3 linked regions of the Homo sapiens genome follow. The protein of the gene in region 1 interacts with the protein of each later gene in a pairwise test. Each region holds a gene or a part of one and is shown in the gene's direction. Other genes may lie near its edges.

Region 1 (3,653 bases):
AAACAACCCAAATGCCCGAAGTACGGCCTTATCCATCCAACAGAGGATCACTCAGCCACGGAAAGGAATTGCAGCTCTGCCGCTTGCCACCCCACAGATGAGCCTGGAAAACGTCACGCTGAGTGAAGGAAGCCAGACACGAAAGCCACAGAGTGCATGATTCCACTCATATACAATGTCCAGAACAGACACATCCACAGAGACAGAAAGGAGACTCGTGGCTGCCAGGCCCTGGGGGAACGGAGAGTGACTGCTAATGGGTGGGGAGTTTTTTGGGGGGAGATGATGAAAATGTTCTGGTATTAGATAATAAATTAGATAGTGGTGATATTAGGTGGGGTGCAGTGGCTCACGCCTGATGCAGCACTTTGGGGGGATGAGGTGGGTGGATCGCTTGAGGCCAGGAGTTCGAGACCAGCCTGGACAACATGGTGAAACACTGTCTCTACTAAAAATACAAAAAGTTAGCTGGGCGTGGTGGTGTGCACCTGCGGTCCCAGCTACCTGGGAGGCCTGCACCCAGGAGGTGGAGGTTGCAGTGAGGCGGGATCGCGCCACTGCACTCTAGCCTGGGCAACAGAGCTAGAACCTGTCTCAAAAAAAAAAAAAAAAGTGGTGATTTTTACACAACTGTGAATATATACTAAGTGAATATACCAAAAACCATTTAACTGTCTACATTTTAAGTGGATGGATTTTATGGTGTGTGAATTACATTTCAATTTTATAAAAAGTTAGGAAGCAAAGAGAAAAAAAGAAGTGGCAGAGCTGAGACTTAGCCCAAAGGAGTCTGAACCTCAAATGTTTATTGAGTATCTACCACCTACCAGCCACCGAACTAAGTTTATAAACTTTTTTTTTAACCTTTAAAAAAACCCTGGCTGACTGGGCGTGGTGGCCCATGCCTATAACCCCACACTTTGGGAGGCAGAGGCGGGCGGATCACCTGAGGTCAGAAGTTTGAGACCAGCCTGGCCAACATGGTGAAACCCCGTCTCTACCAAAAATACAAACATTTTCCAGGCGTGGTGGCGGGTGCCTGTAGTCCCAGCTACTCAGGACACTGAGGCAGGAGAATCGCTTGAACCTGGGAGGCGGAGGTTGCAGTGAGCCGAGATTGCGCCATCGCACTCCAGCCTGGGTGACAGAATGAGACACTGTCTGAAAATTTAAAAATAACAAAAAATATAATGAAAAAACCACCCTGGTGAGATGAATCTTCTTGGGAGACTTGTTTTGCTGGTGAGGAAACAGGCCTAGAGGGGCAGACAAAGCAGGGCACAGTGGCTCACACCTGTGATCCCAGCAGTTTGGGAGGCCGAGGTGGGAGAATTGCTTGAGTCCAGGAGTTTGAGACCAGCAACGTAGCAAGACTCTGTCTCTACAAAAAAAAAAAAAAAAAAAAACAGAGAGAGATAAGAGGTGGTGGAGGAGCCTGGGACTCGGGGCCCTGGAGCTGACTCCAGAGTTGGAGACTTGTGGAAGGGAAGTCACTCCACAGGGGTGCTGGAGGGACCCGGGATGAAGCGTGTGGCCAGGCCGGCCTGGCTTGGGTCTGGGGAGCAGCCGAGACCCCTGGAAGTCAGGCAGCAGGGAGGCCCTGAGCCCTATCTCCCCTCTGGGTGGATGGGTGGGGCCGTTGGGCAGCACCCAACCCGCCCTCTCTGCCTCTCTCACTTCCTCCTTCTCCTCCTGCTGCCCCCAGATCCGCTTTATCCTCATCCAGAACCGGGCAGGCAAGACGCGCCTGGCCAAGTGGTACATGCAGTTTGATGATGATGAGAAACAGAAGCTGATCGAGGAGGTGCATGCCGTGGTCACCGTCCGAGACGCCAAACACACCAACTTTGTGGAGGTGACGCCCGCTCCATGCCTCCTGCACCCCGCTGCTTCCTCGTGCCCTACTTCGCCACTCCCTGCCCAGCTTCTAGTTGCAAGAACCCCTTGGACCCTCTATCCATCCTATATCATTCACTCAACCTGCTTTGAGCTTGCTTGCTTCTTCCCTTCCTTTACTTGTACTTTTCATTGTGAAAAATCATAAACATACAGATTAGTACAATGAAAGAAAAGTAGATTGGAGATTCGTATACCTACTACCCAGATTTAATCAGTATTAATATTTTGCCTTTTTGTTCTGCATTGTTATTATTAATTTTTTTTGCCTACGATTAAAAAAGAATTTTTTTTTTTGGTCAAATTTTTTTTGCTGGTGCGTTTTTCAAACTTCCTATAGAATGTTCAAACACAGAAAAGTAGAGAGAATAGGCCAGGTGCAGTGGCTCATGCCTGTAATCCCAGCACTTTGGGAAGCCAAGGTGGGAGGATTGCTTGAGCCCAGGTGTTCAAGACCAGCCTGGGCAATGTAGCAAGACCTTGTCTTTATTTTTTATTTGATTGAATTGAATTAATTAATTAATTAATTAATTAATTACTTTTTTTGAGACAGAGTCTTACTCTGTCACCCAGGCTGGAGTGCAGTGGCATGATCTCAGCTCACTGCAACCTCCACCTCCCAGGTTCAAGCAATTCTCCTGCCTCAGCCTCCCAAATAGCTGGGATTACAGGCGTGCACCACAACACCAGGCTAATTTTGTATTTTTGGTAGAGACGAGGTTTCACCATGTTGGCCAGGCTGGTCTCGAACTCCTGACCTTGTAATCCACCCTCCTCGGCCTTCCAAAGTGCTGGGATTACAGGCATGAGCCACTGCGCCTGGCCTTTTTTGCCTTTTTTTTTTTTTTTTTCTGAAATGGAGTCTGTCTCAGTCACCCAGGCTGGAGTGCAATGGGGGCAATCTTGGCTCACTGCAACCTCCTCCAGGGTTCAAGCTATTCTCTGCCTCAGCCTCCCTAGGAGCTGGGATTACAGGTGCTCGCCACCACGCCTGGCTAATTTTTGTATTTTTAGTAGAGATGGGGTTTCACCATGTTGGTCAGACTGGTCTTGACCTCCTGATCTCAAGTGATCCACCCGCCTTGGCCTCCCAAAGTGCTGGGATTACAGGCGTGAGCCACCATGCCTGTCCCTCTTTAAAAAATTTTTTTTGAAACAGGAGCTCATTCTGTCACCCAGGCGGGAGTGCAGTGGCACGAACATGGCTCACAGCAGCCTTGACTTCCTATGTTCAAGCTACCCTCCCACCTCAGCCTCCTGAGTAGCTGGGACTACAGGCTTGTGCACTACCAAGCCCAGCTAATATTTGTATTTTTGGTAGCGATGGGGTCTCACCATGTTGCCCAGGCTGGTCTCAAACTCTTGAGCTCAAGTGATCTGCCTGCTTCGGCCTCCCAAAGTGCTGGGATTACAGGCATGAGCCACTGCGCCCAGCCAGGATGCAGGTTTAAATGGTTTGGTTAGGATGGCATTGCTGAAAAGGTGACATTGGAGCCAAGACCTGAAGGACTTGACGGGGAGGAAGGAGCCAATGTCTGAGAGGAACATTTCAAGCCAAGGGAACAGCAAGTGTAAAGTCCCTGGGGCAGGAGAATACTTAGGGCGTTCCAGGGATAGCAGGAATGCAGCCAGGAAGGGGAGGAGATGAAAGAGAGAAGATAACAGGGTAATCTCTTGGTGCAGGGCTGCAGGGAAGACTTGGGCTCTTACTATGAGTCAGATGGGAGCCGTAGAAAAGTTGTTTTTGCCGGCCGGGC
Region 2 (3,653 bases), on another chromosome or scaffold:
TATGCATTGACGAGGAGTTTGTGACTGTTTTTCATTATATTCTTCTGATAAGTCAATTAATGGCATGTCATTTTACTTCTATAAGCTGATTTTCCACATTTGTATAAAGTGGAGGTTATGGGTATGGGTGTGAGAGACGGGAGTTTAGGTTGGAACAACTTCTAACTTCTCTTCCAGTTGTAAATACTGTATAACATAATGGAAGCAAAATGCTTCCATGGCTCCATAACCATGTCTATATTCATTTGTTCACCATTGACTTGTCTCTTACTGTGGGGATTTCCTGTTATATACATGCTGCACATAGATTTCCAAAAGATTCAGTTATAATCTAAAACATTTATAGTAATTTGCTTGGCTATTACACATTTAAAATTTATCGGAAGTGTCTTGATCAAACAAGAATTTAGGTTGGCTTTCAAAGAATGTGAACAAGGCTGAATATAAATAGGATTGGGGTCATTTATCAGTATCCATTCTTTTATTTCATTAGCTGAATTAATGTCTAAGCATTCAGTCCAAGAAATATATGTAGCTCTTCTATTTTATTAATGGTTTAGCCTTAATCCTATCTTCCTTTTAGTTTGCAATAAGTACAAAATAGTTACAAATTCTAGAAGATTGTTATTGTCTACCTCCTATGAAGTACTTAAGCAATACAATAAATAGAGCTGTCATTCTTTGTCTTCTACTTGCTCTTTTCTGGATATTTGGTTATATGACTGTTTTTTCCTTTACTACTGTCTAATCTAGTTCACAATGATTTTTGTGTTCTTAAAGAGAAAATGTCAATGACTTAAATTATATCACCATAACTTTTATAATCAGATGATCAGAGAATATAGGATTAAAGCTAATAAATGCAGGGTCCTTTGAAATCCTCACATAAAAGGAAACAGCAAAAGTACCAGCTTTATCTGGTATCTGACTGAGAAAATCAACCAATGTATATTGGTTTTGCACTTTACATGGTAATGTTGTCATTTATTTTTAGATATCCTTGGAACAGAAGATCTTATTGTGGAAGTGACTTCCAATGATGCTGTGAGATTTTATCCCTGGACCATTGATAATAAATACTATTCAGCAGACATCAATCTATGTGTGGTGCCAAACAAATTTCTTGTTACTGCAGAGATTGCAGAATCTGTCCAAGCATTTGTGGTTTACTTTGACAGCACACAAGTAAGACTTTGTTTTCTATGAAGGCTTGAATAAGAAATTATTGCATGCCTTCTTTTTTTCCCATTACATTTTGTCTGACTATCTCTTTTCTGTTTTTGTTTGTTTATATTTTTTGTTCCCTCTAGAAATCGGGCCTTGATAGTGTCTCCTCATGGCTTCCACTGGCAAAAGCATGGTTACCTGAGGTGATGATCTTGGTCTGCGATAGAGTGTCTGAAGATGGTAAGGCCTGTGGATGGGACAGTAGTTGGTACATGCATTTGCCATTCCTTGATAAACAGAGTACATCTGTTTCTTTAACTTAGGACATACATCCCATGTGACTTTATGGCTTTATGAAAATATTTTCAGCTATTTTTCTTTGGAATCTTGTAATACTTACTTTTTTTTTAAGAATGGATACTTCGGGGCTGAGAAGTCATTTTCTTTTTATTATTTTAGATGCCTTTAGAATAACATTGACATTAAGGGAAACACATTGAGATTTGTGAAGAATATTGCAGGAATAGTCATGTTTTATTTTCTTTTTACTTATGAAGATTCTTTTGCATATTATTTTAGGTATAAACCGACAAAAAGCTCAAGAATGGTGCATCAAACATGGCTTTGAATTGGTAGAACTTAGTCCAGAGGAGTTGCCTGAGGAGGATGGTAAGTGTTTATGTGTTAGGAGAAAATATGGCACTTAGATATGAGAGATTATTTTAATTCAGGGAAGAAGAATCACAGCAAAATTCAAGAAACTTTTTTCCCCAGCTGTTTCAAGGATTTAAGCAAAATCCATTGATGTAATCTTATAATCTTACACTTAGTGTAATAATTCATTTTTTTGGTTTTACCACCTGTTTTAGAACTTTTGAAAATGTGTGTTTTTCTTATGGATAAAGGTATAGGGCTGCTTTCTAAAATCTTTGTCATTTCCATAATCCTTTTTCCTTTCCCTACTGCTGAAGAAGGAGAGTTAGACCTTCGTAGTAGTTAAAGTTGATGTTTCTTATTTTGAATTCATAGTAACCTAAGGCTGAATTCCCAAGAATCGCAGGGGACATTTCAAATCCATTTGAATGTCTTTTGGACATTTGAAGCCAAAAGATAGACCCCAAATTTAATCCCCCACCTCCACCCCAGGTAGCTCTGCAATCGCTGTCCTCCGCTATTGCTGGACCTTCTATTTCTTCCCCTCTTCTACTCCCCTTCCCCATTTCTTTTCTCATCTTTTCTCCTTTGAAGTACACCTGTTTTGGTATCTACCAGGATAAGAGGGTTTTTGGTTCACCAAAACCTTATAATCTGGTACAAGAGATGAAACTTACAGATAATTGAATTACCAAGTGGAATGTCATAAGTATTATAGAAGAAATAGTAGTGCTGTGGTATTTTAGAGACCGGAGAGCTTATTTTTGTTTAAAAGTGCAGAGAACGTGTTGGCATTGTGACCTCTCACATGTCAGCTGCTCCATGGGGAAGAAGTTAGAAAAGGTCCTGGGCTTGTAGTGAGAGGACTGCTGGAGAGGTGGCATTGTGAATATGCCAGTTGTTCCAAAAGACATTCTGGGCAGGGGCAACCAACGTGAATTAAAGTACATAGATAAGACATAAGCAGTCATTTCAAGAAACTTGTATTTTTCTTCAAGGAATTAAGAAATATTTTTCTATATTCTGGTTTTATTTATAATTTTTCCAAAATGCTGTTACCTTTGAGAATAAAACCTGCTGGAGAAGAAGAGAACAAAACTGAAATAAAAACTCTGGTTTTTCTCCTTGCTCATTTTAAAGAGTGTTGAAAATTAGCATGTACATCTTTTTCTGTGTTTTTCTAGGTCCCTGAAACTTGTGCCCTGTTTTGTGTATGTGAGCCTGTGTGATTTCTGGCACTAGAATTTTCTCTTTCTCTTGTCCTTGGGAGTCAGTATTTGACTGTTATCATTTTGGAATCTCTGCTCCTTTATACTACTTTATTTCTCGTAGCCCTTTGTCTGAATAATGTTCTTGTATTCATTCAGCTTAATCTTAAAATGGGTTTTTTGATATGTCATCTTTAGGTAAGGTAATGAAAACCTTCCTAGACTTTTAAAATACAAATTATTCCTAAGCCATATTTCCTCATCTTTTACTTGCATGTATTATTCAAACATGAATATAGGACTTTATGCTAGTTTGTATTAATTTTCCTCTTACTGGTACTAGCTCTTCATTTCAGACCACATTTTTGGTTCCTGGTTATATCATCTAAAGTATTAGTTATTCTTTTGAGAATTAAGTCATTCACAATTAAGATAAACATGACTTTTAGGTCTTCATCCAGACATTGGTGGTGATAAACTTATCTTGGTAGAGTATTTTCTTTCTTTATTTTTATTTATTTATTTATTTATTTGAGACAGAGTCTCTCTCTGTTGCCCAGGCTGGAGTGCAGTGGCACGATCTCTGCTCACTGCAAGCTCCACCTCCTAGATTCACGCCATTCT
Region 3 (3,653 bases), on another chromosome or scaffold:
GGGGTTTCGCCATGTTGGCCAGGATGGTGTTGATCTCTTGACCTCATGATCCGTCTGCCTCAGCCTCCCAAAGTGCTGGGATTACAGGCATGAGCCACCATGCCCGGCCCTCTCTTCTCTTCTTTATCCCCATCACCACCACCACCTAAGTTCAGACTCTTACCGTCACTCTCCTGACTTAGATGTTCTTCCGGTCTCCAGTTTCTCCCCTGTTAACATACTGATTCTAAAATGGAACTATTATCACATTGTTTTTTAAGTCCTTCAGTGGCTCTCTCATACCCTTCAGAATAAAGTCCAAAATCCTCACAGACTTTTCACAGCATGGCCCTTGCTTGCCTCTCCAGCCTTGTCTCTTGACAGGCCCTCCCTCCCACCTCTCAGGTCAGCCTTTTCTTGAATCACTTGAAATTCTCTGAACCTATCATATGCCCTCTTCTGGGCATTTGGATGTGCTATTTTATGTGCATAACACCCTAATGCCCTGCTCCCCCAACATTTAGCTGACTCTTGCCCTACAGGACACGTTTCTGGTGACGCCCAGTCCTGGAAAACTTGTCAAAACCACCCTCTGCTTTCAGCCTGGGTTAGGTATTCATGTCTCTTGTCCTCATAAGGTCCTGTCTCTACTCTGAGTATTTATCACTTTATATTTTAAATGTGTGCTTATATAATGTCTTCCCCCATTAGAATTACATTTCTTTTTTTCTTTTTTTTTTAAGGCAGAGTCTTACTCTGTTGCCTAGGCTAGAGAGCTGTGGTGCAATCTCGGCTCACTGCAGCCTCTGCCTCCTGGGTTCAAGTGATTCTTGTGCCTCAGCCTTCCAAGTAGCTGGGATTACAGATGTGCATCACCACGCCCAGCTAATTTTTGTATTTTTAGTAGAGCTGGGTTTTCATCATGTTGGCCAGGCTGGTCTTGAACTCCTGACCTCAGCTCATCTGCCTGTCCCGGCCTCCCAAAGTGCTGGGATTACAGGCGTGAGCCACTGTGCCAGGCCTTAGAATTAATTTTTTTTTTTTTTTTAGAGACTGAGGCTCGCTGTGTTCCCCAGGCTGGAGTGCAGTGGCGCGATCTCGGCTCACTGCAACCTCTGCCTCCTGGGTTCAAATGCTTCTCCTGCCTCAGCCTCCCGAGTAGCTGGGATTACAGATGCGCATACCACACCCAGCTAATTTTTGTATTTTTAGTAGAGACAGGGTTTCACCATGTTGGCCAGGCTGGTCTTGAACTCCTGACCTCAGGTGATCCGCCTGCCTCGGCCTCCCAAAGTGTTGGGATTACAGGCGTGATCCACTGCACCTGGCCAGAATTAAATTTCTTGAGTCAGCTTCCACCGAGCCAAATGACTGCTGCATAGTAGACTCCCAGTAAATATTTGTTGGATAAATGAATGGATCTTGGCAATGAGTGTATGTTTGTCACATATTTGTAGGCTTCTTCTGAACTGGCCTCTTTTTCCTGTTGTCCTTTCAGGACCTGGGTTTCAGTGATGAGACATGGGGTATGATGTAACCCGTTTCCAGGGGGATGTTGACGAAGATCTTATCTGCCCTATTTGCAGTGGAGTCTTGGAGGAGCCAGTACAGGTGAGTTGGTCTGATGGCAGGTTTGGTGGGGCAACAGGTAGCAGTGGAACTAGTAGAAAATATTCATGGGCAGCGGGACCCATGGTGAAGTCACTGTGTTCTTCTCTCCACCCTCACCCAATAGAGATTTAGGTCAAAGGAGTAATGGTGACTACAAGAATAAGGCCTTCCAGAATCAATCTAGAGGTGGATGCCACAGAGATCCAGTGGTTCAGATTTTTTTCTGAGGTCACTCTGAAAGATTTCTCCTGTAAAACAGTCAGCTGCTTGTTTCTGTCTTGTGATAGTAGCTGGGTAGCTTCCTTTCCTCTACAGGAACTCTTACTAGGTTCCATCTTCCTGTCCGTGATTGAACTTCTGGACTCTCCTAATAAGTTCTCTCTGCATTTTTATGATGTAGTGCTTCAGGTAATCAGCCAGGCTCCCTGCAGGCCTCTTCTACCTGCCTACTGTCTAACAAATAGGAAGGCTGGGCACAGTGGCTCACACCTGTAATCCCAGCACTTTGGGAGGCCAAGGTGGGTGGATCACGAGTTCAAGAGCCATCCTGGCCAACATGGTGAAACCCCGTCTCTACTAAAAATACAAAAATTAGCTGGGCGTGGTGGCACACACCTGTAGTCCCAGCTACTCAGGAGGCTAGACAGGAGAATTGCTTGAACCCGGGAGTAGGAGGTTGCAGTGAGCCGAGATTGTGCCACTGCACTCCAGCCTGGGTGACAGAGTGAGACTCCATCTCAAAAAAAAAAAAACAAAAACAAATAGGAAGTGGGGAACTGTATGTACTGACCTATTTTTTTCCTGGGATCTACTGAAAAGACCAGCTTTTGATACAGCCATGCACTCTGCATTTTGATGTGAAAGCTGCCACCTTCAATAGGTCATTTCTCTGCCAGCCTTGCCAGACCAGAGTCAGTTGTATCATCCTGGGGCAAGTATGAGGAGAAGCTCACGATTACCAGGCAAGTACAATGAGTGAGGTGAATCCTTAAGAGTTGTATTCATGGGACAGCATCCTCCAGGATCCTTATTGCCCTCATTCTGTAAATACCAATTAATCCTTTCTCTTTCCTGGCTATCTAGAGATTATCACATTTTCCAAACCAGGACACTAGGCAATGAGGTTTCATGGCCCTTCCCCCATTCACTGCTCACCTAACTCCCAGGGGCTCCCCTTGAGCCTTTATTTTTTCTCCCAGTACTACTCCAAAAGGAGTACTGATGCCTTGAGCTGAATAAAATTCAGACTGCATTCCAATGGCAACCAACTCTGGACCTGTCTTCTTTCTAGGCCTTTGCAGTCTGCTGCCATTAGAGGCATATTAGATGGGTGTGGAGCAAGTCATCAAGTAGTAGTGTCAAGAGGTCACAGGGTGTGTCAGGTTCCCTCCTCACCCTGGCAGGGCCTTGTCTGTTTTCTGGCACTATCATTTTAGGCAAGTCACTTATGGAAAGGTGAGTCGTAGTTGGTGACAGTCTAGTCAGAAGCCACCCATCTACCTCCAGGCTTTATCTTCTGAGGAGCAGAGCAGGCAACCCTCATGATGCCAGGTTCCCAGACACATTTCTAAGGTTAGAAGGCTCCTGCTAGGGATGCTGATTTCCCCACATCATAATTATTTATTTTTTGAATAGGTGAAAAATGAACATAGTTCAGAAATCAAAAGGTATACAGTGAGAATTCTCACTTCTGTCTTTATTACTGTGCACCTAATTCCCCCACAGATAACTATTTTTATTAGTTTATTTGGTATCCTTCCAGTGTGTCTTAAGGCAGATATAAGCAAATATGAATAGATGTCTGCATATATATGTATTTGTGTATACATATGTATATATGAATATATCTGTGTTTCACCATGTTGGCCAGTCTGGTCTTGAACTGATCTCAAGTGATCTGCCTGCCTTGGCCTCCCAAAGTGCTGGGATTACAGGCATGAGCCACCATGCCCGGCCTTATTTAGCTTTGTTTTGTTTTGTTTTTTTGAGATGGAGTCTCACACTTTAGCCTAGGCTGGAGTGCAGTGGCATGATCTTGGCTCACTGCAAGCTCTGCCTCCCAG

The links.
Region 2: the proteins of AP2S1 (region 1) and AAGAB interact in binary tests that used the Homo sapiens proteins (3 or more experiments, as listed by UniProt).
Region 3: the proteins of AP2S1 (region 1) and RNF41 interact in a protein complementation assay, tested with the Homo sapiens proteins (one study listed by BioGRID).

What each region holds. Positions count from the first base shown.
Region 1 is NC_000019.10:46,844,195-46,847,847, reverse strand, and holds part of AP2S1 (AP-2 complex subunit sigma), read left to right. Parts: intron 1-1,705; coding exon 1,706-1,855; intron 1,856-3,653. UniProt on the Homo sapiens protein: Component of the adaptor protein complex 2 (AP-2). Adaptor protein complexes function in protein transport via transport vesicles in different membrane traffic pathways.
Region 2 is NC_000015.10:67,234,162-67,237,814, reverse strand, and holds part of AAGAB (alpha- and gamma-adaptin-binding protein p34), read left to right. Parts: intron 1-994; coding exon 995-1,185; intron 1,186-1,310; coding exon 1,311-1,407; intron 1,408-1,746; coding exon 1,747-1,836; intron 1,837-3,653. UniProt on the Homo sapiens protein: May be involved in endocytic recycling of growth factor receptors such as EGFR.
Region 3 is NC_000012.12:56,211,895-56,215,547, reverse strand, and holds part of RNF41 (E3 ubiquitin-protein ligase NRDP1), read left to right. Parts: intron 1-1,477; 5' UTR 1,478-1,500; coding exon 1,501-1,590; intron 1,591-2,409; exon of another isoform or gene 2,410-2,552; intron 2,553-3,653. UniProt on the Homo sapiens protein: Acts as E3 ubiquitin-protein ligase and regulates the degradation of target proteins. Polyubiquitinates MYD88. Negatively regulates MYD88-dependent production of pro-inflammatory cytokines.